Regions from separate parts of the Homo sapiens genome. Here region 1 is linked to region 2. The links come from fine-mapping of genetic effects on gene expression. A gene starts in region 2. The other region holds a variant in brackets. All regions are shown on one strand. Distances are from middle to middle.

Region 1 (2,930 bases), 26 kb before region 2:
GGAAAGAGGTTGCAGAGAGATGAGGAAAGTCAGTAGAACCTTTACTATCTGAGAAACTATGGTCTAGAAAGTAAATACAAAATAAATGAGAATAAGAGGAATTCGAGGCTAGAAGGGGAATCCCTGGGATACTGTGAGTGTTATTGCCTGGATTAGGGTAATGCGGCAGATGCTTGGTGCCCTGCCCAAATCCCCTTGGCATCCCATTCCCATTTCCATACACACCACCTGCTACCTACCACAAGCATCTGTGACTCTCCATCCTCGGGCTTTCTCTGGCCACAGAAGCATGCCTGGTCTATCTGGGGCACAGGCCAGAAGTTTGGGGAGGTTAATGCCCTTAACCAGTGAAGCACGGAAATTAGCTGATCAGTACCCTAGTTCTCTTGCCCCAGCAGAGGGGGACAACTCTGGGGCATGTTCTACTCAGTCTTCCAGCGCTCTCTTTCAGGAGAGAGCACCGGGACCTTCTATTAGCTTTCTTCACTTCTCTGTATTACTTCTCTACTCTCTTAGCCTTTCTGAGATCAACTCCAAAAAAACTGCTTGCATCAAATCCTGGTCTCATAGTCTGCTTCTGGGGAAACTAAGTCTGAGCAGTGAGTTACTAAGAAAATTGAGGAAGAGTGGGGAGTCTTTGGAGATAGCGATAAAGAGATATTCCCTCGTTGAGTGTTTAACCTATGAATTAACTGCCCATCCCCATCATACACATCCAACTCCACGTTCCCCTGATAACAAAGATAACACTTCTTAGTTACATTCTGTTTATCCACTAAATGTACAATAATGGATCACACCAATACTGTCACTGAGAGAGATATGATCCCGCGTTTACAAAAATTTGCAAAAATATAATTTTTAGTGTTTTACATTATTGAGTCCTGGTTATTAATCTCTGCTTGTTTTGGTTACCACATCACAGTGAATGAGAACCCATAAAGTCAGGACATTTCAACATTAATAAAGACCTAAAACACACACAGGCAGAACACTCACTTTATAGGTATTGGAACTGAGACTTAGGGGAAAGAAATGACTTCAGCAAAGTCACACAGCTGGTGACAGGAGGCCTGGGAGTAAGATCTGGTTTCCCTTTCTCTCTGCCAAGTTCAACTTATACATAGCTGTCTTCCAGCAGGGCCAAATACCTTCAAAAATAATAGGAAACTTTGGTTTTACTACACACACACACACACACACACACACACACACACACACACACAAACACAGTAATAGACCAAGATGAACCACTTTGAAGGAAGTTGCCCTTAGTGTTAACAAAAGAGCAGATTTTAGACACAGAAATCACGATTCATAACATTCAAAAACTTGTCCTCCTGCCACGTTTTTTTTTCTGGATTGAAAGATAATAGAAGTTATGTATAGGAGAAGCAGTTCCCTACCCTCTGGTAATGAGAAGATATTTATCTAAGTGACCTTTGTTATTTAATACAGAGAAGACTTTTCAAGTAAGACAGGAAATAGCTGATATCTACTTATCAAAACACCACTCACCAGAATTTAGAAATGAAAATAAAAAAGGGAAAGATGAGTT[T/C]GAGCTGAAAACTTCTAGAAAAAAGCAACAAAGACAACCAATGTTGCCCCAGAGGTTGGCAAATGTTAACACAGTTGCGTTGTGGAAACTAATTTGGGTTCACAAAATCAGATGTGTAGAAAGTGCATCATTTTTATAATTATATAACTGAATTAATTTCCGTATCAAGCTCGCAGTCCCCCAGGTGACAAAACTTAATTTCCAACAAATCATGTCCTTGTGCCAAGGTTGCCTCTAAGTTTCTGGGAAACCTTGCAATGTGCTGGAGCATCCACGGGAGAGGGGGATGAACTTTGGATCTGGGTTTTCCATCCATACATGTTCCTGCTCCATCTGGCTCACACTGACCATCAAGCTCTTGCGGTCAGCTGAATTTCAGTGTCGTGTTTGTACCGTTTTCCTATGGCTGCATAGGAAAATGGTTTGCTTCTCCTCGTGCCATGCTGGAGAGTACAGGGACTCTCGGGAGTTAACTCAGTCCACTAGCCTGGACACCAATCATGACATTTCATCTGCTCCTGTGCCATGGAAAAATTCAGGGAACTTGCTGTTTTCCCAAGCCCTCCCCAGAAAGGCAGCACCAGTCTCTTCTATATCTCAGATTTTCAGCCGCTTCCAGGTCCTGGGACTCAGGCCATGGAGTACAGGCAGAGAGTTTCCAGGAACAGCCAATCTCTAATTCCCTCTCCTTCCCCAGCCCATGTACCTCCTCCAGCCTAGGCTCTATAACTAGGAAAACTGGCCCTGGCTCATTACAGATTCTTCCAAATCTTGCCTGTGTTTCGACCGCAACTTTTGACAATTCCATAAGGCAAAATGTTCACTCTGTTTTTTCTCTCTGTTTTGGATGCCTCATGGGTTAGCTGCTTAAGTAGATAAGATGTCACGGAATAACAACTGCAACAACAAAAAAAAGTAGAAGATTAATCAGCAATTAATATATGAAAATATGTCTTCAGGGACAGTGACACAAAATTTAATTATTATTCTACCATTTCATGTGTAATATAAGATCAAACAGTGATTAAAATCGGGACTAGTGAATGACAGTGAGTCTGCAAATAGTAGGCCGTTTCCAAAACAGCGTGGCAACAGATAGGAAAATCTTAGACACACACACACACACACACACACACACACAAGCTCTACTCAGAGTTTTCCACTAATAAAAGAAAAGCTTAATGCTGTATAAACTCACCCCCTCACTACCACCACCACCAATGTGTTGAAGTGCTAGCTTTACCCTACTGATTCGCTGGTGGGTTGAAGGGCTCATTATCCCACCCACTGTAACTTACCTATTGATGGAAGTGTCTCCTGTGGATCATTTCATTTTAATTGTTTTACTGTACCAGTCCCTAATACAGTCCCA
Region 2 (2,930 bases):
CACTTGAACCCAGGAGGCGGAGGTTGCAGTGAGCTGAGATCACGCCACTGCACTCCAGCCTGGGCGACAGAGCAAGACTCTGTCTCAGAAAATAATAATAATAATAAATAAATAAGATCAACAAAATTTGATAGGTATAAAGATCACTGTATACCTATCACTTTTTTGTTGTTGTCAACCTACATGGGATGGCCCAACACTTTTTTGTTGTTGTTGACCTACGTGGGACCACATAATTATCAAGATAGAAATAGAAAAGCTATTCAAAATGTACTTCAATGTCATATACAGTGTATATTTATCACTTTCTTAAAAGCTTGGGACAGTGTATAAAATTACTTTTGTTGATATAGTTTCAATTTTCAGAGTGTAAAAACTGTCAAACCTAGATAAGACACTCTACTTTGAATGTAAAGTAAATTTCTAAAAAGTACTTATCCTTTTTTAGGTTTAGATAATTATTTAGAGGTGTGAGAGCATGGAAAAAGATATGACAAGAACAAGACAGTTTCTTATAGTAATCTGGTTCAAGAAATAATACAAACATATATGAATGAATAAATTATCAAGGTCAAATTAATGTAGCAGAAACTGAGACTGCCAAATGGACATACAAGAGAGTCAGCCGCAAAGGATCATGAAAGTTTACATGACCACAGTTATCAATTTGGAAATAGAAAATCTATTTAAAATGTACTTAAATATCATATTAATCTTCTATACACTTCAGAGAGGTGGAGTTTCATTGTTGCTGTTGTTACTAGTGTTTTTGTTGAATAACCCATTCTTTAGGAAGCACATAATGAAATTAACTCTGACTCCCTCCTTCTTCCCACACTGTCCCACAACCTCTTCCTCTGCCAGCAAGACTTGGAAGGAAGATGATTGTTTACAAGGGAAGGTAGATTAGTTTATGTTACTCCCAGATCTTGTTACACCATGAAATCATATAGTAAACATAGCTTCTAGAATTTTAACTTCCATATGTTATATTATCAATTCAGACCCCCCAAAACTAAATTTCTTTGAATATCTAATTTTAATAGGTTAGATGCTCTCTGCCAATTTTTCTCCTTAATATACAAACCTAACATGATAATAAAAACCAATAACAAAATCAGAGGCTTCCTAGACAGTAGCCCATCTTCATTTCCAGGTTAAAGATTTTGGTTGAGACTATTTGCAAGCATATAATAATAATTCCTGTGCAAGAGAGTCTCTATTGAATGATACGTACTCTGAAGATGGTATGAAGGAAAGAGGCTCTTAGGAAGATCCAAGCTGGCTGCCAAGCTTCCATATCCACTTCAAGGTTTCCTGTAATATTAAATGCTTGGCCTTCACAGAAGATATTTCCAAAGACAACATATACATTATGTTGTATATGTTGGGATAGTCAGGGCTGGAGGCTCCCAAACTTGTATATGAAACATGACATAACAGAAAGAGCAGGCTATTTGGAGGGAGAAGGTTGGGTTCAAGCCCAAGCCCTCAATCTCATTGACACTGCAAACAGGGACATCACTTAACTTCTACGGGTCCAGTTCACAAGTCTGCCTTACCTCTCTAGATAATAGTTTTGTTTTATCAAATCAAATGATGTGAAAGTAAGAACAAAAGAAGACATTGGTAAGATATTCAAGAGGTTAAAAGAGGATGTGGTAAGTGATTACCATATTTCTCCCTCCTCTTTCTTCTCTTAGTTTTAACTGCTTAGCAAAATATTTACTGAGTGCCTGCTAAGTTTCAGCGATAAGCCCTGGAGATACAGAGGGAAAAAAAAAAATGACATGGTCCCTGACCTGAAGTAGCCAAGGAGTGACATTTACCTGACTTTACTTTTATAAGGATCACTGTGGTTACTACATTGAGCATACATGACAGGCAGATGACGATGCAAGCAGAGATACTTGGTTTATACACTACTGTATCATTTCAGGCAAAAAAAAAAAAAAGGTAGCAGCTTGTACAAGGGTGGTAGTAGCGAAAGTACTGAGGATTCAACTAAGATGAGGACCAATGACTAAGCTTTGGATTTAACACAGCAAAAAGATATTCAGTGTTCTTGAAGCACAGACAACGTTTAATGAAAACTAGGAGATCAACAGAGGGTTACTCATAACAGAATGAAAATTCCATGAGGCACATTGGAAAGAATTGGAAGGGAGGTCAACAGGAGATGGAAGCATAGGAGAGAAACAAGCACCAGGTTTAGAGAAGCTTGCTTCTGGGGCAATAGATAAACACTTGATAGTCGTGCATGCACAGAATTCTGTGCAGTTGGCCCAACAAGGGTGTGGTGCCTCGGGGTAGAATTCATCCCGAGTACGTGAGGAGACAATCCTCTGCCTCCATAGTTGCTCACTTTCATGCAAAACCAGCTGTTACCCATTTGGTTGGGGAACTGAGGTAAACATAGTGGAACTGAAGAGGATTGGAGTGGAGTAGCAGAGTCCTAGCCCTTGAATAGAATTTTTGCCAGGTAATTGATGAGAGTGTGGATGAGCACAATTATACCTATTATTTATTGGGTACATACTCTGTGTCTGCCATGCTTAATCTTCACCACAGAAAACTTAAAGATACGTGTATTAGTCCATTCTCACGCTGCTATAAAGAACTGCCCAAGACTGGGTAGTTTGTAAAGGAAAGAGGTTTAACTGACTCACAGTTCTGCAGGGCTGGGGAGGCCTCAGGAAACTTACAATCATGTCCTTCTTCACGTGGCAGCAGGAAGGAGAAGAATGAAAGTCAAGTGAAGGGGGAAGCTCCTTATAAAACCATATGATCTCGTGAGAACTTACTATCACAAGAATAGCATCAGGGGAACTGCCCCCATGATTCAATTACCTCCGACCAGGTCCCTCCCAACACACATGGGGATTATGGGAACTACAATTTAAGATGAGATTTGGGTGGGGACACAGCCA

What was found. PIP is the estimated chance that this variant, and not a neighbour inherited with it, causes the effect.
Region 1: its variant is the best candidate, but not a certain one, in a credible set for the expression of LINC00402 in whole blood (INTERVAL, PIP 0.79).

The regions. Positions count from the first base shown.
Region 1 is chr13:74,256,458-74,259,387 of GRCh38, reverse strand. LINC00402 (long intergenic non-protein coding RNA 402) reads right to left here. Exons shown (of 2, transcript NR_144451.1): 2 at 1-2,455. It also overlaps a transcript of KLF12 not described here. Among named protein-coding and RNA genes, the nearest start is that of LINC00402, 26 kb to the right of the region's middle. The variant T/C (reference allele first, on the strand shown) is at 1,559.
Region 2 is chr13:74,230,060-74,232,989 of GRCh38, reverse strand. It overlaps LINC00402 (long intergenic non-protein coding RNA 402), which reads right to left and starts at 1,546. Exons shown (of 2, transcript NR_144451.1): 1 at 1,238-1,546. It also overlaps a transcript of KLF12 not described here.